Homo sapiens: one gene and its partners. The protein of the gene in region 7 interacts with the protein of the main gene of each other region in a pairwise test. Each region holds a gene or a part of one and is shown on either strand. Other genes may lie near its edges.

Region 1 (3,500 bases), on a different chromosome or scaffold from region 7:
CCTGTAATCCCAGCTACTTGGGAGGCTGAGGCAGGAGAATCGCTTGAACCTGGGAGGCAGAGGTTGCAGTGAGCTAAGAACATGCCATTGCACTCCGGCCTGGGTGACAAGAATTAAACTCTGTCTCAAAAGAATAAAAAGGTAACATCAGGTACTTCTATCATATGTGCTCATCTCTGTGAATGGAAAACTCTTTTGTTCTGTCTGCCTTTACATGAAAATAGAATGCCAGATATTCCTAATAGTTGGAAGCTTCAGTGTCCAATGAGTCAGCTACCTGGGAAATTTGGGGCAGTTATAAAATGTTCCCATAACCTGTTTCTTCATATTTAAAATGCAAATAAATCATCTCCATCCTCACATCTGAAAAATGCAATGACAGATGGAAAGGGCTAGCAAGACATCTAAGTACTACTAGACCTTACGTACATGTAGTTACTTTGATGAAATAAATTCATACAAGAAATAAATGAGTGATAAAAACATAAACGGGAAAAATATATAGCTCTTCTTCTCTGAAAGCATCTAATAAAATTACACCATGTCATTCTTTAGATGTTCTGTTTACAAAACACCTGAGGGAACTGACATGAAACTGAGACATAAACCTCTTCAATGCAGAGTTCCTAAAACTTTAAGGACAAATAATATTGAATTCCACCAGAATTTCTTTTGAAGGAATTGTTTTTATATGTAGGGAAAAAAGTCACTGGATTTACTTTAAAGTAGTAAAATTCTTAAAATTTCTGAATTTCTGAAAGGCTAAATAAGAAATAGTTTTTGTTGTCTTTTAAGGGCACTGCAATTCAATGGCATATGATGTACTCACTTACAATGCAGGTGATGCAATTAAGTGGAGAATGCACAATTGAAAATTTCATCTACTCAAGTATTGCAAAATGTGTATGAAAAAGGAACATGGGAAAATGAAAAAAGCTAGTTCATAAGCAGGGTAGTAGCATAGATTATTTCTGATTAAAGCTTCTATTATTTTTTCAAACACTGTTTTGTAAAATAGTAAAGGTGATAAACTAAAACAAAAAAACACATACATGTCAGCATACCACATGTCCTGAATATCTGTTTCCCACTAACCTTTCCAAGAAAGAGAAAAAATAAATCTGTTATCTTTGAGAAATAAATCACATTTTAAAAGACAGCAAGGAATCCTTTACGTACCTGAAACTTGGTCATTTTCTCCTGCTTCTTCTGGGGAAGGTCATAGTTCTGAGATGGCATAACTGGGGGAGACCAAAGACGCCATGAGACACAAGCCTGCTGTTAGCCCATGTGTACATATGAGGAAATTAGAGAAATAGCCCTACATTCAGACAGGTATAGCCACATACAGCTTGGTAAGCAGAACATGGACTGTATTCCAGCTACTAAATGGCATGATAGTTCAGTGCCATTGGGCAGTGAACAGTCTGCACAAGTGCAGCATCCTTGCTACAAGGATTTCTGATGGCAGAGACAGCAGGAAACGAGAGGCAATGTAACAACATATGAGGGCTCTCAAGTCAAGTATCTGGGTTTAATTCCTAGAAATGATACTTACCAGCTGTGTAACCTTGGGGATATTAAAAACCCTCTCTGTGCCTCACTTCTGTTATGTGTACAATGAGGATATGGTAAGAATCATAAATCGTACCTCCCTCATAGGGTTTTTCCAAGGATTAAATAAGTAGATGGAGAGTTCTAAGAACCAGGAGTCCCTTTCTCTTATAGTTACAAAAAAGCTTCTTCATGGCTTCTTGCTGTTTAGCCAGGCCTGGCACAGTGGCTCATGCTTGTAATCCCAGCACTTTAGGAGGCCAAGGAGGGAGGATCACATAAGGTCAGAAGTTTGAGACCAGCCTGGCCAACACGGCAAAACCTCATCTCTACCAAAAATAAAAAAAATCAGCCAGGCGTGGTGGTGCGGGTCTGTAATCCCAGCTACTTGGGAGGCTGAGGCATGAGAATTGCTAGAACCTGGAAGGTGGAGGTTATAGTGAGCCAAGATCACGCCAATGAACTCCAACCTGGATGACACAGTGAGACTCTGTCTCAAAAAAAAAAAAAAAAAAAAAACAAGCAGATGATACTTTGCATCACACACTTGCCTTGCAAATATTGCTCTCCTATGAAAGTCACCTTTAATTTCTGAAAAGCCGAAATCTGACTTAAGGTTTCTTTTTAGTAATTTGTTGCCCAGCTAGTAATATTTTACTGACACTGTTATCAGTTTTCTAAAACGTATCATTCTGGGTCAATTTACTTCATGAAGCCTGGAAACGATCATTGGTACATCTCTTTTATTTTATGTGCACAGAGAAAAACACACAGCAAAGAGAAAGATAAAGCACAAACGAAAAATCAAGAAACATGAAAGATAAATTGAGAGGCTTCCGTATTTGTCTAACAGGAATGGGAGAAGAGAAGGCAGGATGGAGGGAATGACTGAGAGGTTTTAATTTCAAGATGCAATTGCTGAGAATTTCACACAATTGGTAAAAGATACAAGTTCGCATATAGAAATTCTAAACAGTATAAATAAAAATAAACATACCCTAAACAAATCACAATAAAACTCAGAAATGCAAAAGACTAAACGAACATAAAGAACTGGAAACAACAACCTTAAAGCTCCTAGAAAGAAAATATAGTTGACCTAAAAGAAATAACAATTAGATTGACAGAAATAGGGTAACAGAATGGAGATTTAAAACAAATGAATATTACCTCCAAAATAAAGAAACTGTCAACCTGAATTCTATGTTCAACTAGATGATTATTTACATGAGAAAGAAACAATATTTTAGCTGAAAAAAAAAATGAAGAGAATTTATAACCATGTGAACCCTAAAAGATGGACTGCAAAAAGCAATGGTAAGAAAACATTTGTGACTATATTGGTAATATAATAATCTTTGTTTAAAAAAAGCCAAAGAACTATAATGACAAATTTTGAGGGTGGTTATAATAAAAAGTAGACCTATAAAAACATAGCTTTTTTTTTTTTTTTTTTAAAGGTACATCTTTTTTTTTTTTTTTTTTTTTAGAGAGAGAGTTTCGCTCTTGTCACCCAGGCTGGAGTGCAATGGCACAATCTCAGCTCACTGCAACCTCTGCCTCCCAGGTTCAAGCGATTCTCCCACCTCAGCCTCCTGAGTAGCTGGGATTACAGGTACGCACCACCACGTCTGGCTAATTTTTGTGTTTTTAGTACAGACGGGGTTTCATCATGCTGGCCAGGCTGGTCTCAAACTCCTGACTTCAGGTGATCCACCCGCCTAGGCCTCCCCAAGTGCTGGGATTACAGGCATGAGCCACCGCACCTGGCCCCATCTTCTTTCAGATTTTTTTTAGTCTCAATATTCTTCAGAATAAGAACACATGCTGATTAAGTTTAGTATTTGCTAAGAAAGAGAATATTTTTAAAGTTAGAAGAATGACACAAAACCATATAAACTCCAGACCAGTTGAGCACAAATAAAAGGGAATAAACTGAACAAAAA
Region 2 (3,032 bases), on a different chromosome or scaffold from region 7:
AAGACCCCTGTCCTAAAGAATGAAATACGGGTTATGAAAATTTTCATTCTAGTTTAGGCGCACACCTATAATCCTAGCACTTTGGGAAGCTAAGGTGGGAGGATCACTTGAGGACAGGAGTTTGAGACCAGCCTGGGCAACATAGCAAGTCTCACCTCTACAAAAAATAAATACATAAATAAAATTTTATTTTGACATTTACTTTTGTTTTTCTAATTGTATCTCACAAGTATTTTGGTCTAAAAATATATATAATTACATGAATCTGGCTCTGTTAAAAAAGATTGCTGGCCAGGAACCTTGGCTCACACCTGCAATCCCAGCATTTTGGGAGGCTGAGGCGGGTGGATCACAAGATCAGGAGATCGAGACCATCCTGGCTAACATGGTGAAACCCTGTCTCTACTAAAAATACAAAAAAATTAGCCAGACATAGTGGCGGGCACCTGTAGTCCCAGCTACTCGGGAGGCTGAGGCAGGAAATGGCATGAACCCGGGAGGTGGAGCTTGCAGTGAGCCGAGATCCAGCACTGCACTCCTGCCTGGGCGACAGAGGGAGACTCCATCTCAAAAAAAAAAAAAAAAAAAAAAAAAAAGATTGCTGAATTTTGATTCAGTTATAATTTAATAAGTATACTTCACCCTCTTATTTTATGCCCAAAATGACAATTCAGTAAGTAATTCCATTGTGTAAAAAACTTTACATAAATACATGTTTATGTTTGGAGACTCAGGAAACAATGATGGAAGCATTATCTAGGAAATATAGAGAAGGCCAGGATATAAAAACATTGGCCATGTGTGGTGGCTCACACTTGTAATCCCAACACTTTGGGAAGCTGAGGTGAGCAGATTGCTTGAGCTTAGGAGTTCAGGACCAGGCTGGGCAACATGGTCAAACCCCGTCTCTACAAAAAATACAAAAGTTAGGCATGGTGGTGCGTGTTGTAGTCCCAGCTACTCCAGAGGTTGAGGTGGGAGGATTGCTTGAGGCTGGGAGGCAGAGGTTGCGGTAAGCCAAGATCATGCCACTGCACTCCAGCCTGGGTAACAGTGAGACCCTATCTCAAAAAGAAAAAAAAAAGTTAAATTTACAGGACAGTGGTGATAGAATTAATTGTTTTTTTCTTGTTGTTGTTGTTGTTGTTGTTTTTATTTTGAGACAGAGTCTTGCTCTGTCGCCCAAACTGGAGTGCAATGGTGCGATCTCAGCTCACTGCAACCTCTGCCTCCCAGGTTCAAGAGATTCTCCTGCCTCAGTCTCCTGGGTAGCTGGGAGTACAGGCATGCACCACCAAGCCTGGCTAATTTTTGTGTTTTTTTTAGTAGAGACAGGGTTTCACCATGTTGGCCAGGCTGGTCTCGAACTCCTGACCTCAAATGATCTGCCTGCCTCGGCCTCCCAAACTGCTGGGATTACAGGTGTGAGCCACCGCACCTGGCCTAATTGTGTAATTTAAAAACCTGATTTAGTATGCATGTTGTTTGACAGAATAATAGCAGCAAGCTATTTGTCCCTTTCATTCAAATTTACCAGACTTTATAACTAATGTGAGTGAGCATAGTTTTGAAGTATTACATTTCTGGTCTTTAAAGAGTAAATAACTCGGCCAGGCAGGGTGGCTCACACCTGTAATCCCCAGGACTTTGGGAGGCCAAGGTGGGCGGATCATGAGGTCAGGAGTTTGAGACCAGCCTGGCCAGTATGATAAAACCCTGTCTCTACTAAAAATGTAAAAATTAGCCGGGCTTGGTGACACACACCTGTAGTCCCAGCTACTCAGGAGGCTGAGGCAGAAGAATTCCTTGAACCCAGGAGGCGGAGGTTGCAGTGAGCCAAGATCGCGCCACTGCACCAGCCTGGACAGCAGAACAAGACTTTGTCTCAAAAAAAAAAAAAAAAAAGTAAATAACGGGACATGCAGAAAAAGAAATAGTTATTTTAAATTAAAGGGCTGCTTTTGAAAAATTATGAAATGGCTATTTGTATGATTCTGAGAACTCAAACTACAAATTAGGGCTATTGTGCTATTAGCTTTGTTCTGTTGTTCAGGAGGTAGTGATACAGCTATATCAGCCTAAGTTCCAGACTAAAAAAATTTAATCATCTTAACTACTAACCTACCTGACTTTTATACACGTGCTAAGATGCATTGTCTTGCTTAAATGCTGGTTAAGTTGACTGCATGTACCGTATACAGCCTACAATGGCAGACTTTCCACTTGCTTATAATAAGAAATACTGTACTCTGTATGTGATAAAAACACAGAATCTTTCTCCAGAGTAAAATGATTTGGGGGATAGTAGAAGGGCTTGTCTGAGCTGTGTATAATCACTCTATTAACAGGAGCTTTTTTCCCCCTCGTGTTTATCAGCATTGGAGAAACCAATGTAGAAAGAAAGGCCAAGAAAAAAAGGTATGTGTGGTTTTAGCAGTGTTTTATAGATAACATGTAATACTAATTGGCGGGATGGGAAAGGTGATTTTAAAACAATAGCTATGCCAGATGCAGTGGCTCATGCCTATAATCCCAGCACTTTGGGAGGCCAAGGTGGGTGGATCACCTGAGGTCAGGAGTTGGAGACCAGCCTGTCCAACATGGTGAAACCGTGTCTCTACTAAAAATAGAAAAATTAGCTGGGTGTGGTGGCACATGCCTGTAATCCCAGCTACTTGAGAGGCTGAGGCAGGAGAATTGCTTGAACCTGGGAGGCAGAGGTTGCCATGAGCCAAGATCATGCCATTACACTCCAGCCTGGGCAACAGAGCGAAACTCTGTCTCAAAAAAAAATAGCTATAAGATTTGGATCTGAAGCCTCTTACTGCAATTTATAATTAAATAATCATCCTATTTTCTGATAAGTTCCTTTTTTTAACCTGTCTGGAAATGCATTGCTTCCATTTCTCCTTTTACTCCAACTTTCTAGAGTCCTTGTACGTGGAAACAATAAATAATTGTCTTCTCTTGGCTTAGAATAGGAAGTGTTAATAGACTGGTAAGAAATTGTTGGCCAGCCATATCTGGTCTGA
Region 3 (3,500 bases), on a different chromosome or scaffold from region 7:
TGGTGTTTGGGTGTGCCTCCTGGAATTCATTTGGCAATCTGGTTGCTACTGCGGCAGTGTCGGGAGGTAGGGCCTTTAAGAGATTAGGTCGTTAAAAGGAATAAATGCCTCATGCCCTTCTCTCAGGAATGGGCTAACTACCCAAAGTTTAGCCCTTTTCTCTGTTGCACCCTGCTCCCGCTTCTGCTTTTTCTGCCATGCTATCAAGCAGCATGAGGCCCTCACCAGATGTGGCTCCTGATCTGGGACTTCCCAGTCCCCAGAACCATGAGCTAAAGAAACCGCTTTATAACTTACCCACTCTCAGGTATTCTGTTCTAGCAACGGAAAACAGATCAAGACAGGGTGACTGCTAAAGGGTAAGGGATTCTTTTGAGGGTGATGAAAATGGTCTGAAATTGACCAGTTACAGAACTCTTCAAATATATTAAAAACCACTAAATTGTACGGTATGTGAAGTATATCTCATCTAAGCTATTAATAAAGACAACCAAATAAACAGAACCAAATTCCAAGGCAGAATTCTGGTATAAATACATTACCTGTGATTTCTGATCCCATTTCTGCCTAACCCCAAATTGTTTCTGGAACTTTTTCTGCAGTCGAATGCGTTCTCTGGAAAGACAGACATATGATCTCAGTGCAGACCTTTAAACCAGTGGCTTCTTCAAAAGGCACACGCTGCCATTCTCTTCAGCTAAACCTTACCATCACCACTAACTCCTTTAAACTACGAAAAATGGGCTTAGAGAAAGGAAGAGACCCAGACGGTGCATACTGGAGGTGTTAGAAAAGGTACACTGCCTCCAAATACTGACCAGATGATTTTACTTCATCTATAGTGACTGTTCACTGATAGTTCCAATCTGGGGTGTAGTGGCCGCTGGACCACACAACACCAGGAGGCTCAAAGGACCAGCATACAGGGGGCTTCCTAGAGTTGACCCACAGCAGAACTGAGCCCAGGTAAGCTCCAGAGCCTCTTCTTGCCTGCCTGTGTTTCCCTTTAGTGCGCATGACCAGCACAAGGAGTTAGTTTCCTGCCCATGCTATCTGCCATGAACCAGCCTGAGAACGACAAGCTAAAAGGGGGCTTAACTGGTTGTAGAAAGTATTTTCCTTTTTTGCAGTGGTGGGGAATACAACCATCCTCCTGCTTTGGTCCTGTGGTTTCCAAATACGGCCAGTCTGGGAAGGGTGTCTTGTTCCAGCAGGATGAAAATCTCACCTCTCTTTCTGTTTGGCACTCTTAGGCAGGATCTGCAGGTTGAACTGCAACATGTTCCGACGATCTTTGTCTCTGCGGAGGTTCCTCTGGGCATCAGCAAGAAACATCCATGTTAAAATCTTGGAGATTTGGCTCACAATAGGCAGAACAAGTGGGAGGTCTTTGGAGTAAATTTAGGATGCCAAATCCCAAGTTTCACATCTTACTCTGTGCTTTCACTCTACGGCATCAACAGCTTGGGGGTGTTAGGGGGTAAGTGCTTGGACTTTGCTTAGACCTATACTCCCATGATATATTTTTCATTGAAGTATGTTTACTGGGTCTCATTAGATTTTCTGAGTTTGCCTCTTTAAATAATAATAGGCAATCTGACTGGACCATCTACTTAATAAAGTCTGCACACAGCAATTAAGTGTGGTAACAGGCACAGGTGCACCTTCTTATCCAGCACAAATGTTTTTAGCATACAAGTCTGATGTCCTAGCTACTGGCAAACAGAAATATAAACTATTTAAATGCATCCCTGATCCTAGTGCAAGTTCACCTTGGTACCACTTGTTATGGAACGGTGACCCGAGATTCACGAAAAGACCTATAATATGCTTCCCTCTCTCATTAGGAGTCACAAGGTAGCATTTTTTAGCAGGTGATGGCCAACAGTAACAGCCCCAAGATGGTGTGGTTGCTGGCTCTTGGCCTACCTGGGCAAATCTCATTCGATTCCGCTGGTAGGCCGTCTTCTGTGTGCGCGCTGTATCCACCAGCTGGAAGCTACTTTCATCCTCCTCATGGAAATAAGCATATTGACTTCCACCACCAAACTGAGAGGAGTACTTATCTGGAGGCAAAGGTGATGGCATGTAGTAACTGCACCCACAGACTTTACCAGATATGCACCAGTCTAAAGCCTTGCTATTTCAAGTGTGGTCTTGAGACCTGTAGCATTGGCTGAAAGCTTGTTAGACACACAGACTCACAGTCCCACCCCATACCCACTGAATCAGAACCAGCATTTTAACAAGATCCCCGGATGATTCATATGCACATTCAATTTTGAACAACTCTGGCCTAAAGAACTTTCTAAGCCAAGAATCTGAAGGACTCAAACTAACCCATTTCACTCTCTGCGTTATTGTGTGAGAATCTGAGGTATTTATTGCTAACCACCATCTCCATTATCAGGGGCCCATGGCAGGTATGTCTAATAGATCACGATATACTTTCTTGCCAATCTCAGCCTCAGCTATCCTAACTTAGTTCTCCAGGCAGCCACCTCCAACTATCTGAAGTGGCAGAGAGAAAAAGCCTTTTTATGGTACCAGGATCTTAAAACCAGGGGTTTTACTTTTTTTTTTTTTTTTTTTTTTGGAGACAGGATCTGGCTCTGTCACCAGGCTGGAGTACAATAGCATGATCTCTGCTCACTGCAACCTCTAACTTCTGGGTTCAAGTGATTGTCCTGCCTCAGCCACCCGAGTAGCTGGGATTACAGGTGCACGCCACCACGCCCAGCTAATGTTTTCAACAGGTTTTTAAAAGGGCCCAAAACCCCATTTTAATAGGCTAGACCTCTTTAATGAATGGTCTAAGTTTTGAGGGCTATTTCCAAAAATGTGGTTATTGTTAAAGCCCAGAATACATCCCTAAAAGTTATGAATTATTGTTGGCAGTTTCTTCCCATTCTAAAAAGCTTTCAGAAGAAGGTCATTAGAATAAAGAACAACTTTCCCAAGGCCCTGATTGGGGCATTCAGTTGCAGAAACACTTACTTGTGTACCTCTTATCTTGGTATGTGGCTCCTGTCCAGTCTGCAACCTACGAAGAACAAGAAAAGACAGAGAATGCACAGGTCAACCAGGCAAGTTTCTGCAGAACCAGAAATCCCTGAGCGCGAGAGGACAGCGTGGAAGAGTCTCAGAATTTGTTCACAACACCTCTGTAAGTGCCCAGCTCTTCTATGACTACACCCAGAGATAACCTTTCTCAGCTGGCATCCCTATAAGAAATTCAGGAGTTAAGATTTTGAGACAATAAAATCTAAACAGGGACTCGAGAGTAGCAGCCACAGCTGCAAAGATTCAGACTCCTGCTGACAGGCATGTACCTTTCCTAGCCGATCTCCTTTGCTGAACGGCTGGTAGGGCATATCCCGAAACTGCTCGGGAACCGCACAGGGACCCCAGCCTGAGGGGTTGTCCTGGATCACGGGTGTCATGAACTTTGCCATCTTCCAAAATCTGAAAAATATAAATCATGTGAGTAGCGGCATGAA
Region 4 (4,092 bases), on a different chromosome or scaffold from region 7:
CTGTAATCCCAGCTACTTGGGTGGCTGAGGCATGAGAGTCGCTTGAACCCGGGAGGCGGAGGTTGCAGTGAGCCGAGATCGCACCATGGCACTCCAGCCTGGGCGACAGAGTGAGACCCTGTCTCGAAAACAAACAAACAACAACAAAAAAAAAAACCAAGGGTGAGCTACCTTGGTCTCCAGACCATACAAGCAACCCCTACACTCAGCAAGTGTCCTGTAAATACAGGCTATTGTTAGTCTCCAGGGTGAAGGATGTGAATGACTCCTCATGGAATGAGTCCACGGCTGGGACCCAGCTCAGAGCTCTTGGATATGACAGCAGCAGTCAGCCGCAGGAGGACCCCCCTGGTGCCTGGAGCCTGTTTGTCTAAGTCCAAACTCTCTTTCCAGACAGACGGTGACCCCAGGACTGAAGGAGAGGGCCCCAAAAGAACAGGCCACCCCGCCCAGCACCCCCTGTACACCAAGAGAGCACCTGTCTTCTTGCCTCGGGTCTCACTCACTCTATCCACCCTCCACAGTGGTCCATAGTGATCCTTCTAAAGGGCAGTTCTGACCGTGACACTCAACTGCTCAAAACTCTTCTGTGGCTTCTTGTTGCCCATAGGACCAAGCCCCAACTCTTGGGCCTTTCACACCAGCCGGGTGACAGCCGTGAAGGCTCTTCTTCATCAGCTAGACTGTCTTTGCCTTGACAAGCCAGAGCCCAGTGTTTGGAGCGAAGCCCAAGTTAAATTTGATGAGTTATGTGACCTTGGACAAATTCATTTCATTTCTCTGATCCCTGAGGGTGGTGAAAACAATCAAAAAGTGCTTCCAAATAAGGACTAACATTTGGCTCAGAGAGCTCTCTGCAGAGGGTCCAGAAAGAGCCACCCACTTTCTGGAGAATTCTTTCATCTTCAGAATTCCCAATGAGACACCGAGGAGAAGCCTCTGCAGCCCCCAATCCTCTCCCTGGAGGTCTGTTCATCCTAATGGCTTCTGTCCTTTCTAAGTGACACGTCTACACCTCCAGCTCTGGGTTTAAAGATGCATCCCTTGAAGGGTCCACAGACACTTACATCCAATATAAGGACGTCTTCCTGACAGCAGCTCTCATTTGACAGCAAATCCCCTCTAACTGGACCTTCTCGGCAGCTCCTGAAGTTTATCCCCTGCAAGTCCAAACCCTTAGTCTCCATCAGGAGCATCTCTGCCTCTATTCCCTTCTCCATCATGTAGCTAAAGGGCAAATTCTAATATGCTAATTAGACCAGACTTTCCACTGTTTAGAATCTTCCGGACTCCTGATCATTCCTGGGAGAGTTCTAAGCTCCTTCATATCCTTTCCCCCTGCTCTACCTTGCTCTCTGTCATCTGTTCATACCCAGACTACAATTCTGGCTCTCCTCAGGGATACACAGCTGAGTGGGCAGTACACCTTGCTTTCCCTCAGCTCTAGGCCTGGACTTGCACTATTTCCCCTACCCTAAATACCCCTTGACCTTTGCTTCCCTGGGTGAACTCTGGAATCACCTCCTCTGGGAAGCCTTCACCGACTAAGCTTGCATTTGGTGAGCCTCACTATTGGTCACTTGCTTTGCAATTTCCTATCACGTACAGCTCTTATCACCTGGTATTGTGAGCATCTGTTTCCTCCAAGACATGCTTTCATTCACTCATTCAACTATTTGTTGAGCACCTATATGTGCCAGGAACTATCTGGGGTGGTGGGGAAACAGCAGTGAACTAACCAACGTCCCTGTTTTCATGAAGTCTATATTCTTGAGGCTCTTTGAGGGCAGGAACTGCCTGGCACCAAGGAAACACTCCATAAAAAAGATGATTAGTGTTGTCAGTATTACCTGGGACACGGCACCCAAAGCACTCTTAGCTGAGCGAGCTGCAGCCTGGAGGCCCTGCTGACCTGGCTCTGGGGTTTCCAGGCGTTTCCAGGAGGGCCCTGCGCGGAGGTTGAGGTTGACGGCTCTCAGGGGCAGCCTCCTTTGGAACTGTCTGCACAGGGACCCCAGGGCCCCTACAGAGGTCTCCTGATGGCTGACCACAGGCTGCAGCTCCTTGCTGTCCTCCAGCTGCTCCTGGTGCTGGAGAGATCTCCGGCGCACGGAGGTCCCCATGTTCTGCCACCGAGAAGCCATCTGCCTGGCCAAGAGTCTTCTCTGTCCACTAGACCCTGGGGAGGAGGGCGAAAGGCAGATCAGCAAGGCATTCCCCATACCCATTCCCAGGCCCCACAGAGACCCTGGACACAGGGGAAGAGACGGGATGCAGCGGGGTGGCGGGGGCGGGCGAGTTGGTAAGTGTGGGTGCAGGAAGGAGGATGCTTCCTGGAAGAGGGGCCTCGGGTCAGCAGCATTTCTGATGTCCCGCCCTTCAAGTTTCCAAAACAGCTGTCTTTTCATCCCAACCTCCTTCCTCTCTCTGGCTCAGGCGAGGAGGGGAGGCAGGGTCAAGACACGCCGTAGCCGAGCTTCAGCGCTGGGCCCAGGACACGATCACCATCTTCTTCACCAGCTCGCCCAGACCAAACGCGCACCCGCCCAGACCCCGGCCTTCCCACCAGACGCCCCGATTTCGATCCGACTTCTTGTGGTACCCAGACGACCCCACAGGCCGTGCGTGTCCGAACCTGATGCCCTCCCCTGTGAACAGAACCTGATGCCCTCCCCTCCGAACAAAAAAATTGTTTTGAGTCCAGATCGCGCCATTGCACTCCAGCCTGGGCAACAAGGGCGAAACTTGTGCCCAGCCCGCACTCACCCGACACCACTAAGGCCGAGCACAGCCGCAGCACAGCTGCTCCTCGCCCACCGCAGCCGATTTGAAACTCTGCGCGGCTCCGCCCCCGGCCCCGTCCTCACAGCTGATTGGTTCCGTCCCCGCCCCCGCCACCGCCACCGCCCCGGGGATCCGATTGGCTCCCTCTCTCGCGGCTGCAAATGCTGCGCTTGGATTGGCCCGGCCGTGCCCATTCATCGCTCCGGCCCCCGCCCCGCCGCCAGCCTCGTGGCTCCGGGCTTTGTATCCTGCGTCCCGCTCGCGCCACTGCCCTTGCTAGCCCAGCCCCCGCGCATCGCACACCGGGTCCCCTCCCTGGAGCGCGCACAGGGTTCAGGCTGCTCTGACCCATGGGGTGGAGGCGGAGGTCCTGGGACCTAGGCCTCCTGGCTCAGGCCCCAGGCCCCAGGCCCGGCAGCGGGCAGAGACCCCTCTCATCCTGCCAAGGGGTCTGGCTTTTCCTTCTTGCTCAGTGGTTTTGTCAGAAGGAGCCAGGGACTGGCAGTGCAGAGCCCTGGGTTCCCAGAGACGTTTTCTTTCAAATTTCCCTCCTGACCCTCCCTTCCTGTGACAAGACACTGTCCCTCTCTGAGTTCCCCATACTCGCCATCCACGCTCCGCCCTCCCTAGAAAACGCGTCCCGGAAGCGGGGATAGACCAGAGTACCGGTCTGCCCTCCACCCGTCTACACCGGCTCCCCGCCCCCGCCTTGCCCCACGCATCCCTCCCTCTCTCCAGCGGAATGCCTGCCTCTCTTCTCCTTAGCATCCAAACAAATGCAGCCATTATAAAGCTCTCTCCAGCTCATCTTTCTCCTTTCGGTGACCTCAGAGCAGTGCTGCCCACTCCCCCGGCTGGTTTCTTTGTTACTTCTCCGCACAAGAGCCTGAGATGATGGCTTCTTGAGACTCTGTCTTCAGCCCTCTCCGTTTCTGGGTGGTCTCACCCACTCCTTTGGCCTCAGTGATTTCCAAGGAAAGGATGATGATAATGATTAACGTGTATATGGCACTTAGTATGCACAGGTACCGGTGTTGCAGTTTATTAACTTACTTGATCCTCTGCTATGGTTTGAATGTGTCCCTCAAATTTCACATGTTGGAAATGTAATGCCCAAATTCATATATCGGTGGCATTTTTTGTTTGTTTTTGAGACGGAATTTCACTCTTGTTGCCCAGGCTGGAGTGCAATGGCATGATCTCGGCTCACTGCAACCTCCGCCTCCCAGGTTCAAGCGATTCTCCTGCCTCAGCCTCCCTAGTAGCTGGGATTACAGGTGCCTGCCACCACGCCTAGCTAATTTTTTG
Region 5 (3,500 bases), on a different chromosome or scaffold from region 7:
CCAGCATAAGGCCCCTGAGTGGCCGAGGGGACTTTCTTAATAGGTGGGACACCCCTTTAGAAAGTGCACCCCAAGTTCCTCAGTAGACCTAAGTGGAACTGCTTTTCATCTCGGCTGGACATCCTGAGAGAAAGTGCAGTTTGTGCCCCTGAGTTGCACCATCCCCAAGCAGCATGTTTTCTAGTCCCACCATGGGACAAACCCCATCTATTCCTTCAGACTCACTTCTGGGTTGTATCCTAAAACATTAAGACAAATTTAACTCTCAAACCCTCAAAAAGAAATGTCTAATTTATTGTGTAACACAGCATGGCCCCTATGTAGAAAACCATCAAATTAGCCTCCTGAGTCCTTTACAACTGACAGCAGAATAAGGAGGACAGGGCTAAGAAGAAAGAAAAATGCAGAGGCAAGAGACAGGCTCAACTGTTGGCTGCTTTACAAGCCCCAGCCCCTCCAGGTTTCCCTAAAAATACATTCCTTCAGATAACTGCCATCAGTGCAAAACGCCAGGTTACTGAAAGGCAGAGTGCCCCAGTGGAATAAATTTTAAAAGCCCTGCCTGGCTTACTCTCTCTGCCACAAGCTCAGCCACTGGAAAAAAGACTGCCCTGATGATCAAAGGGCCCCCAGGACAGAATCTCAACCCCTAATGGCCTTATGCTAAATAGGCTCTCTGCTCTGTCTGGAAACAGCTCACCTTAACTGATAACTTGCAAAGTTGGGAAGAATTTATCCCACACCTTGTAGGTCTGGGGTGCTAATGCTCTCCCTGGCGGGAGATAAACAAAAGTGGCAGGGGTACTGACCTTGCACTGTGCAGTGGCTGGAAGGCTCACAAGCCCTCCTGTAAAGCCTGACCTTTTCCTCTCCATTCCTTCCTTTTCTTTTTCTCTTTTTCTGTTCAATCCAGGGGTCCAGCCTTAAAAGGGAAAGACAGTTTCTAACATCCTAACCCCTGATTTTGTCATTCTCTTTAAAACTCCAGCTGGTTACATATTATGGTACATTTTAAACTAACGGGCAAACTACAACAAGAAAAAGTCAGAGCTCAAATGGTTAACCTGCACTATAAAGTTAAGTGAAGTCTTCTATAGCTCTCTATCTTCCTTTTTTTCTGCCTGCTTTAAATCTGCTGTTACTAAGGTCCTGGTGCTGAGATAAAACTCATTCTTTGTGGTCTAATTAGAATGCAAACATCGAAAACTCATTTAAAGTTAAAGAAAAAAAGGTAAAAGAGGTTTTGTTCAAACAACCCAGAATTTTTAAACCTCCCTTAAAAATAAAAAATAAATAAATAAATCCAACACCTCCTTTAGACCTTACTCTTAAGGCTGACTCTTTTTATCCAATTCTACTACAGGCTTTCAGTAATTATCCAACTGCCTCACTTAAGCAGCGTCACCCTCTTAATATTGATGCTTTTATAAGGGAGGTAGTTTACGACTGCTATTTGCAAGCGGACTTCCAAGATTACCACCCAGATGAATTTTTTTGTATATTTGTCCTAGTAATGTCATTTACCCCCACACCACATCAGTGTGCTAAGGTACTAGGTGTTTGGTTAACTGTTTTTCTCATATTCTTTACAGCCCTTCTTCTCGCCTGTCTCCCTGAGTTTACTACATATTGTCATTTTCCTTAAAAATGGCTTTGTTTTTATTCTATCACGGCTATTGCCTCCATGGCTGGAGCCAGGCACTTACTCCTCCCAGTAATATTTCAGGTTGCTAACATAACACACAGCACTAACTTCTGGATATGCCCATGCGGACAGGCACTCAAAGATAACATTATATCCTAGCAGTCCCGCTATCCATAGAAGAAATTACTAACAAGCCTGATACTCTGGATTCAACTACACCATTTACACACACACCAAAAACACAGGTTTAGGAGGGGAGCCTAGGCCAATTGATTCCTCATGGCAATCATCCACTGTGACGGAGCAGATTGGGAAGGCACCAGAGATGGCCTGTAAGGTTCACCTCTGCATCAGAAAATCCGAGGGATCTGGCCCTTTTATAGGCACTTGTAAGGCTCACCTCTGCATCAGAAACTCCAAAGGGTCTGGCCCTTTCCTAGGGTGTTTAACATAAGCCCATTGTAATTACACCCTCAACTATAATCAAACACACCAGGAATGGAAGCTATATGACAACAATGACAAGTTCACTGTGTACCTCTGCAGGTTTTCTCTATGGTGGGGAAACAACAAAGTTAATGCCAGCAAAATTTATAGTGATCCTTTTATGCCTATAAACAGTTCAGCTACTGGGATAGAATATATAGGAATAGGGGTTGAGATTGGACAACTTCTCAACCTCACTAATACATCTACAACTTTCTCTTGATTTTCCGTTATCTCATTAATGTTTAAAACTCTTATCTGCCAGGCCCCACATTCATATAACACAAGTAAAACTTTCCTCCCTTATGCATGAATGACTACTTTCTAGGTCACCACCCAGCCACATTTGATCCCTGGGGACCATGGGATCCCTCTATTTATGCAAATTATACTGGAATCCAAACTAACCACACCTATGCCTGGTTACAAGGTCCCTCCTCAGGAGTTTCTTTAAAAGGAACTGGGCTCTTCTTTTTGTGTGGATCCAACATTTTTCCAGCCTTGCCTATTAAATGGAGAGGACGTGCACTATAGTTGCAGCAATACCTGGAGTACATATATATAACTCCTTAGACTTTATAACCTCTGGCCAAGTTCCAAATTTGTGATCCTTCCTAAGTTGGGCCCTTCAAAGGCCATCAGAAGAAAGGAAACAGAAACGGGATTTAATCAACCTTCCATCATTTGGCATCCTCACCACTGATGATCTCATTATAGAGAGGAATGGTCTAGGACATTCTGTTGCCCATGCAGTCTTTTGGTTTGCAGGTATACCCATGCTTGAGTGCAGCATTTGTAATATCACCATCTTAGTCCAGCAATCTTGAGAAGCTAAAGTCATGGCCATCAAGGCCCAATAACAGGTCCTAAATTCATTGGCAGGGGTTGTCTTGCAAAACTGATGTGCTGTGGATGTGCTTAACGCTGAGGCAGGAGGCACCTGCATGCTGTTAAATGAAACTTGTTGCTCTTACATCAATACCTCAGGTCAGGTAGCAAAAAACTTTAGAAAAGATAAAAGAAGACATCAAAGTATTAGAGGGCCCTCAAAAAGGAGTTCCTGAAGATTCCTTTCTGGCACAGCTATTTCAAAGCTTCTCCAGCTGGGTTTGGCTATGGGTTGCCCTACTTCTCCCATCTATAATAAAGCTCATATTGGCTGGGTGCGGTGGCTCACACCTGTAATCCCAGCACTTTGGGAGGCTGAGGCAGGTGGATCACCTAAGGTCAGGAGTTTGAGACCAGCCTGGCCAATATGGTGAAACCCTGTCTCTACTAAAAATTACAAAAATTAGCTGGGCGTGGTGGCATGCGCCTGTAACCCCAGCTACTTGGGAGGCTGAGGCAGGAGAATCACTTGAACCTGGGG
Region 6 (3,500 bases), on a different chromosome or scaffold from region 7:
AACTCCTACAAGTTATTTAATTTTGTTTCATTCATACAACAAGTATTTAGTTAGTGCCTACCATGTGCCAGGGTGCTCCATATTACAGTAACATTACTAGAATACCATCCTCAACTTTCCTTCAAGCTCTCTGGATAACTAGTCGAAATGGCAGATAGAAGTAATCTATATATATATATATTTTTTTAAAAAACCTCTACTTATAGATGCACTATTGTGGCTGCAAAGATGTGAAAATCTATACATAATGTGTTTATGGTACTATATTTTACAGCCCTTAGAAATCTGTAATTATTTTCTTTGGACTCATATATAGACCAACAGATACAGTTTAATTGTGCAGTTATGTTGTATAAGCTGAAAATATATAGCCAAACATATCTAAGCATTTTAATTAAGTCACTGTACTTACTCTGCGTTTTTTCTGAAGTTGATACTTTGATTCACTATATGGTGGAACACAGTGGTTTTTTTCAAAATCAGGTGTAATGACGGCTTTCTGCAGAAGCTATAAAAACATAAAATTGGTTTTAAAATAATGTCAGAATGTTATATAAGTTTTTCAACAGTTTAAACTTCTGTAAGTTTTAAAATTTTTAGTCAGCCTGGCAAAGTGGCTCACACCTATAATCCTAGTGCTTTGAGGAGGCCAAGGGAGGAGGATCACTTGAGGCCAGGAGTTTTAGACCACCTTGGTCAACATAGCAAGACCCTGACTGTAAAAAAAAAAAAAAAAAGAAAAGAAATTAGTTGGGCATGGTGGCACACACCTGTAGTCCCAGCTACTCAGGACGCTAAGGCAGAAGGATCACTTGAGGCCAGGAGCTTGAGGCTGCAGCAAGCTATGACTGTGCCACTCACTCCAGCCTGGGTGACAGAGTGAGACCCTGTCTCCCCCCAAACCCAGCTCCCTCCCAAAAAAAAAAAGAAAAAAGAAAAAAAAGGCCAGGCACGATGGCTCATGCCTATAATCCCAACTCTTTAGGAGGCCAAGGCAGGACAATCACTTGAGGCCAGGAGTTCAAGACTAGCCTGGGTAACATAAGAAAACGCCATTTCTCCAAAATAAATAAATAAATTTGTGCAGTCAAATCTGTTTATCTTTTCCTAAATGATTTCTGTACTTTTGTTACTTGACTAGGATGATTATATTCTCCTAAAACTCTGTGTGACTAAAGGAACCTCAGGTTAATTAGTATTTTTCTCAGTACAAGAACCAAGTAAGACTGCTCTGTAGCCCTCAAAATAGTTTACAGGAATATAGTACAAGCATTAATTTGGGACTGACATTTGAAATGATCAACTCAGAAATTAACAGTCAGGCACACAATTCAGGTTCAGGCCTAGATGTTTCTGTGTGGTATAGGTAGCCGTCTAGGCTTTCCTATCACTCATAAAAGGGGGCATGATATTTACTTAACAAATGATTAAGAGTTTGCTGTGAGTCAAGTACTGTAGTACATTCAAGGACAGTGGTTCTCAACTGGGAGCATCTGGCAATGTCTGGAGACATTTTTGGTGGTGGTGAGGATAAGGAAGAATGCTACTGACATCTAGTGGGCAAAAGATAGGGATGCTGTTAAACATCCTACTATGCACGGAACATCTCACAACAAAATTATGCAGCCCAAAACATCAGTAGTGCTGAGACTGAAAAACCCTGTTTTAGGAATATAAAGAAAAGATGGTAAGTTAATATATCACATGATCAACAATGAATCAGATCTATGCTAGATGTTATGGAAACAGAGGGGTTGTGAGAAGGACTGGAGGTAAAATATTCCCCAAGGGCAACGATCAATTATTTTGCACTTGCTTGGGGAAAAGCAGGGTAAGTTCAGGCAACTACAGTAGTCTTCAGTGGCAAGAATAGAGCAGATGACAGCTGGGTGGGGTAGAGAGGTACTTTGAAGGATTCAAGAGAATACTGTCACATCTGTGTGTGTGGTGTGTTTTTTGGGGCAGGGAGGAGAGATGTGGTCTAGCTATGTTGCCCAGGTTGGTCTCAAACTCCTGGGCTTAAACAATTCTCCTGCCTCAGCCTCCCAAAGTGCTGGGATTATAGATGTGAGCTACCTTGCCCAGCCGGATTTGTGTTTTTAGACAGAGAAATCTAGAAGTGTGGAGGATGGCTTGAAGAACAAGATGAAAACAAGATCAATAAGGAAGCCACTGGAGTAGTCCAGATGAGAAGCAAAGGCCTGCACTAGCTGGTGACAGTCGCTTGAAAAGGAGGAAGCAGAGAAATATCTTCCCCTAGAGGCTTGGTGACTGACTACAAAAGGAAAAGAGAGTTTGGTTTCATTAGCCAGAAAAAAGAATACAAGAAGAGGATTCCTGGTTCAGGCAGGGAAAGGGGAATTAGTGACGTCAAGTACCTGAGGACATCTAAATGAACAAATAGGTACTTGGATTTAAAGGTCTGAAAGTGACAGTGAGAAGCATCAAGGCTAGAAAATATAGATTTAGGAGAAAACAGTGCAAGGTGTTGGCTAAAGCTAAGGGTTTGGGTAAAGTTACCTTAACAGTAATTCCTTCTGAAATTATATGTAAAATGTCTATATGCACATGTGCATTTTTTTCCGGGTGGAAGAGGCAGGCAGGCATTCACAGCTTTCAGATTCTCAACAGTCTACACTAGTTAAGAACTTAAGAACTAAAAGTATAGCAAGAAAAGGGAAAAAAACAAAACCCCTGGGATCATAATTGGTGGGTGTAAGATGAGGAACACTGACCCTGTATTGATTTATTTTTAAAGCATTATCATTCATAGATAGGATTTTATTGTAAAAAGAAATGACTGTTTTAGAGAGAAGGAAAAAACTAACACATTAGGCCAATGTGGTTTCACTGTAGGAAAATTAAGTCTTTTACCAAGGACTAATTTCTAAAAGTGATTGGTTAGTTCTGTGAAAACCTAACAGCACAATTAACTTACCTCATTTTTCTTTTTCTCCTTGATCTGTGTTAGGGTTCTCTTGTTAGACTGTAGTTTATCTGCATTAAAATTAATATACAAACCACCCAACTGCTTGATACTCAGACCAGGGTCTATGCTGCTGCTTGTCAACTTCAGACTGAAAAAGAAATCATCACTTAAAGATCAAGTAATTAAATCAAAATGGAAACATATAAGATGGCATTTTAAAAAATCACTTATTCTTCTCTTCCCTTGTATTGTCCACAATAAAGAAAAAAAAGCATCTTATTTTTATGAGGAATTCCTGAAAAAAAACTCTAAATAAATATATTTTTCATCATTTTATTTTATTTTTTGAGACAGGGTCTCACTGTTGGCCCAGGATGGAGTGCAGTAGTGACCACTGCAGCCTTGAACTCTTGGGACTCAAGTGATCCTCCTACCTCAACCTCCCTGGGTGGCTGGGACTACAGGTGCACACCCAACACCTGGCTCCATAATGTCAAATGAATGAGCCATTCCATGAAGAACCCAAGGCAGTGATTTTCTCATTCCCCAGGCTAACATTTCATATTTTTAT
Region 7 (3,500 bases):
TAATTTTATACATTTTTAATAGTTTTATGCATGAAATGAAGTTGTGACTGTGACCTGTCACATAAGGTCAGGTGTGGAATTTTCTACTTGTGGTGTCAAGTTGGTGCTCAAAAAGTTTTGGATTTTGGAGCATTTTGGATTTCAAATATTCATATTAGGAACGTTCAACCCGTACCAGCTTTATTTTGGTTAGGTTAGCATTTCCTTTACTTTTCTATTTTTTGTTATTTAACAAAATCTTTTTAGCGTAAAATGAAATTTTTGTTATAAATCACATACCAAATGTATAGCTTAATAAATTATTACAGGACCATACCATTCAGGTATGCCAGATCCCCTCCATTACCCTATCCCAGTCAAAACTCCTGTGTTCCCATTTAGTCACCATTCTTCTGGGTTTTATAGTTTTGTAGTAATCACTTCCCTGTTTTTTTTTTATTATTTATTTATGAGATAGAGTCTCATTCTGTTGTCCAGGCTGGAGTGCAGTGGCACGATCTCAGCTGTCTGCAACCTCTGTCTCCTGGGTTCAAGTGATTCTCCTGCCTCAGCCTCCTAAGTAGCTGGGATTATAGGCACACACCACCAGGATCGGCTATTTTTTTTTTTTTTTTAGTATTTTTAGTAGAAACGGGGTATCACCATGTTGGCCAAGCTGCACTGTGAGCCTGGCCTCCTAGTTTTTGATAGCTTCCTTGTTATATAATATATTGAACAATTCCTATCGCAGATATGAAATCAGCCATTTCTTTAAAATGCCCGGGTTTCATTTAGAGGGAAATAATATTTCAGTTACAGTCTGAATGCTAAAGATCCTGAGTTAGTCACTGTTTCAGGCATTTCAGTAGACAGAGCTAGGATACCTGTATCTGTCTATAGACACACATGTTAAAAGATACCTAATGTATTCTACTTCCAGTCTTCAGATTGAGATTACAGAGCTTTTACTTAACAACTTCTCTATCACAACTGTAACTCCTTTTTTCCATACTGAGAATCATGATTCTCAAGAATATAGGAGAAAATAGAATATTCCATATTTACTCATTATTCTGTATTATACATATGACAGTATCAGAACTATATTTCTGAAATCACCATCAATATGATTACTGAAAACATTAAACCTTTTTTTTTTGGCTTATGTTCTTCTCATTTTTTCTTCTCTCTCTGTTTTAACAGTTATGCTCTATCTGCATTGTCAGAGTATATAGCCATTTCATGTTCTGCTTTTTCCCTCTTAGCCTATTAGTTCTATTAATATATTTAATGTTTACCACCAGTGTTTATGCTGAGGTCTCTCTAGGCATTTTGGCTACCTGAAGCTAATACATTGTTAGATTCCTCGGGAAGTAATATTGTCTGAGTTCTTATATATTGATCAAAGTTTATTCTTTTTATACTTCAAAGTCAATTTTGCAGATATAAAGTCTTTGGCTCACACTTCTTTTCCGTGAATTTCTTAAATACATTACTCCTTTTTCTTCTGGAATAAAGTATTGGTATCAAAGTCAGATTATTATCTAATTTTTCTTCTTCTTATAAGTCATGTGGGTTTTTTTCTTGTAGATAACCAAATAATTTGTTTTCTTTTTTTCTTTTTGAGATACAGTCTTACTCTGTCACCCTGGCTGTAGTGCAGTGGTATGATCTTGGCTCACTGCAGCCTCCACCTCCTGGGTTCAAGCAGTCCTCCCACCTCAGCCTCCTGAGTAGCTAGGACTACAGGTGTATGCTGCCACACCCAGCTAATTTTTTTTTTTTTTTTTCTTGAGAGACAGGGTTTTGCCAAGTTGCCCAGGCTGGTCATGAACCCAGGCTCAAGTGATCCACCTGCCTCAGGCTTCCAAAGTGCTGAGATTACAGGCATGAGCCACTACGCCCAGCCAAATTTTTTCTTTTTCATTAAAGTCTGCTAATAATATTAGAATATATCACTGTGTTGGTTGTTTTGGGTCAGTATTCTCAGGTACTTCATATTTTCTTTCCATTTGTAGTTTCAAATCTTTTTTTAAATTTCAGGAAAACTTTATTTTTAAAACAGCTTTATTGATATATTTAATATACAATAAGCTGCACATATGTAGTATAAGTTTTGACTTACATATACACCTATGAAACCACCCCAATCAGGATTGTCAATATATCCATCATCCCCCCAAATTCCCTTGTTCTCGTTAGTAGTCTCTGTGTCTAGCCTCCAATTCTCTCAGCAACCACTGATCTGCTTTCTATCACCACAGTTGGTTTTCATTTTCTAGAGTTTTATATAAATGGAATGTTATAGTATGTACTATTTTATGGCTGGCTTTCAGCGTAATTATTTTGACATTTATCCATGTTGCACATATTCTTTTTTATTGCTGAGGGGTATTCCATCCAATGGGTATACCACAGTTTGTGTGTCTGTTCACCTGCTGCTGGACATTTGAGTTGTTTCCAGTTTCTGGCTATTATAGATAAAGCTCTTACGAACATTTGTGTACAGTCTTTGTGTGGACATAATGCTTTCATTTCTCTTGGGTAAATTCTAGGAATGGCATGACTGGGTCTTATGGTAAGTGCTTATTAACCTTTTAAGAAATAGCCAAAGTGATTTACAAAGTGGTTGTACTAGTTTAAATTCCCGTCGGCAGTATATGAGAGTTCTAGTTCCCTCACATCCTCGAAAACACTTGGTCTAGTCATTCTTAGCCATTCTAATATGTGTAGTGGTGTCACATCGTGTGTTTTAATTTGCATTTCCCTCCTGACTAACAATGTTTAGCATCTTTTTGTGTGCCTAGCTGCCATCTGTATGTCTTCTTTTGTGAAATGTCTATTGAAATTTTTTGACCATTTTTAAGTTCAGTTGTTTACTTCTTGTTGATGTTAACTTCCTTACTAAGTTTTGAGAGTTCCCTATATATTCTGGATATGAACCTTTTCTGATTCCTGACTATTTTCTCTGAGTATGTGGTTTCTCTTTTCATTCTCAGAATGTTATATTTTAAAGAGCAGACATTATTTTTATGAAGCCCCATTTGTTCTTGAATTGTATCATGCTTTTGGTGTCATATCATAGACATGTTTGCCTAACTCAAGGCCATACAGTTTTTCTGTGTTTTTCTAGACATGTTGTGATTTTAAGTTTTAGATTTATGTCATTCATTTTAATTTTTTTGTATATGGTGTGAGATATGGCTGAAAGTCCTGTTTCTTTCTCTTTTTTTTGTACATGGGCATCCCATTGTTCTAGCATCATTTATTGAAAAAAAAAAACTATCGTTTTTCCTGCTAAATTACCTTCGTATCTTTGGTGAAAATTAGTTGTCCATATATGTATGAGTCTGTTTCTGGAATCTATTTAGTTTCATTAATCTGTTTGTCTATCTTGATATCAATGCTATATTGTCTTGATTACTATAGCTTTATAAACCTTGAAATGATATAGTATTAGTCCTTCAACTTTGTTCTTCTTTTTCATTCATTCATTTATTAATTTAGAGATAGGGTCTTGC

Evidence for each region.
Region 1: the proteins of CEP70 (region 7) and ZNF227 interact in binary tests that used the Homo sapiens proteins (3 or more experiments, as listed by UniProt).
Region 2: the proteins of CEP70 (region 7) and ZCCHC10 interact in binary tests that used the Homo sapiens proteins (3 or more experiments, as listed by UniProt).
Region 3: the proteins of CEP70 (region 7) and EIF3D interact in binary tests that used the Homo sapiens proteins (3 or more experiments, as listed by UniProt).
Region 4: the proteins of CEP70 (region 7) and PIMREG interact in binary tests that used the Homo sapiens proteins (3 or more experiments, as listed by UniProt).
Region 5: the proteins of CEP70 (region 7) and CFAP53 interact in binary tests that used the Homo sapiens proteins (3 or more experiments, as listed by UniProt).
Region 6: the proteins of CEP70 (region 7) and DNTTIP2 interact in binary tests that used the Homo sapiens proteins (3 or more experiments, as listed by UniProt).

The regions. Positions count from the first base shown.
Region 1 is NC_000019.10:44,215,532-44,219,031, reverse strand, and holds part of ZNF227 (zinc finger protein 227), read right to left. Parts: intron 1,242-3,500; 5' UTR 1,240-1,241; coding exon 1,180-1,239; intron 1-1,179. UniProt on the Homo sapiens protein: May be involved in transcriptional regulation.
Region 2 is NC_000005.10:132,999,518-133,002,549, reverse strand, and holds part of ZCCHC10 (zinc finger CCHC domain-containing protein 10), read left to right. Parts: intron 1-2,130; exon of another isoform or gene 2,131-2,154; intron 2,155-2,348; coding exon of another isoform or gene 2,349-2,376; coding exon 2,377-2,418; intron 2,419-3,032.
Region 3 is NC_000022.11:36,522,667-36,526,166, forward strand, and holds part of EIF3D (eukaryotic translation initiation factor 3 subunit D), read right to left. Parts: intron 3,466-3,500; 5' UTR 3,456-3,465; coding exon 3,333-3,455; intron 3,044-3,332; coding exon 2,998-3,043; intron 2,067-2,997; coding exon 1,930-2,066; intron 1,315-1,929; coding exon 1,229-1,314; intron 616-1,228; coding exon 543-615; intron 1-542. UniProt on the Homo sapiens protein: mRNA cap-binding component of the eukaryotic translation initiation factor 3 (eIF-3) complex, a complex required for several steps in the initiation of protein synthesis of a specialized repertoire of mRNAs.
Region 4 is NC_000017.11:6,443,163-6,447,254, reverse strand, and holds the start of PIMREG (protein PIMREG), read right to left. Parts: upstream 2,801-4,092; 5' UTR 2,767-2,800; intron 2,180-2,766; 5' UTR 2,145-2,179; coding exon 1,851-2,144; intron 1,845-1,850; exon of another isoform or gene 1,224-1,844; coding exon of another isoform or gene 1,068-1,223; intron 1-1,067. UniProt on the Homo sapiens protein: During mitosis, may play a role in the control of metaphase-to-anaphase transition.
Region 5 is NC_000018.10:50,231,996-50,235,495, forward strand, and holds part of CFAP53 (cilia- and flagella-associated protein 53), read right to left. Parts: intron 1-3,500. UniProt on the Homo sapiens protein: Microtubule inner protein (MIP) part of the dynein-decorated doublet microtubules (DMTs) in cilia axoneme, which is required for motile cilia beating.
Region 6 is NC_000001.11:93,872,707-93,876,206, forward strand, and holds part of DNTTIP2 (deoxynucleotidyltransferase terminal-interacting protein 2), read right to left. Parts: intron 3,078-3,500; coding exon 2,939-3,077; intron 509-2,938; coding exon 413-508; intron 1-412. UniProt on the Homo sapiens protein: Regulates the transcriptional activity of DNTT and ESR1. May function as a chromatin remodeling protein. Part of the small subunit (SSU) processome, first precursor of the small eukaryotic ribosomal subunit.
Region 7 is NC_000003.12:138,587,761-138,591,260, reverse strand, and holds part of CEP70 (centrosomal protein of 70 kDa), read left to right. Parts: intron 1-3,500.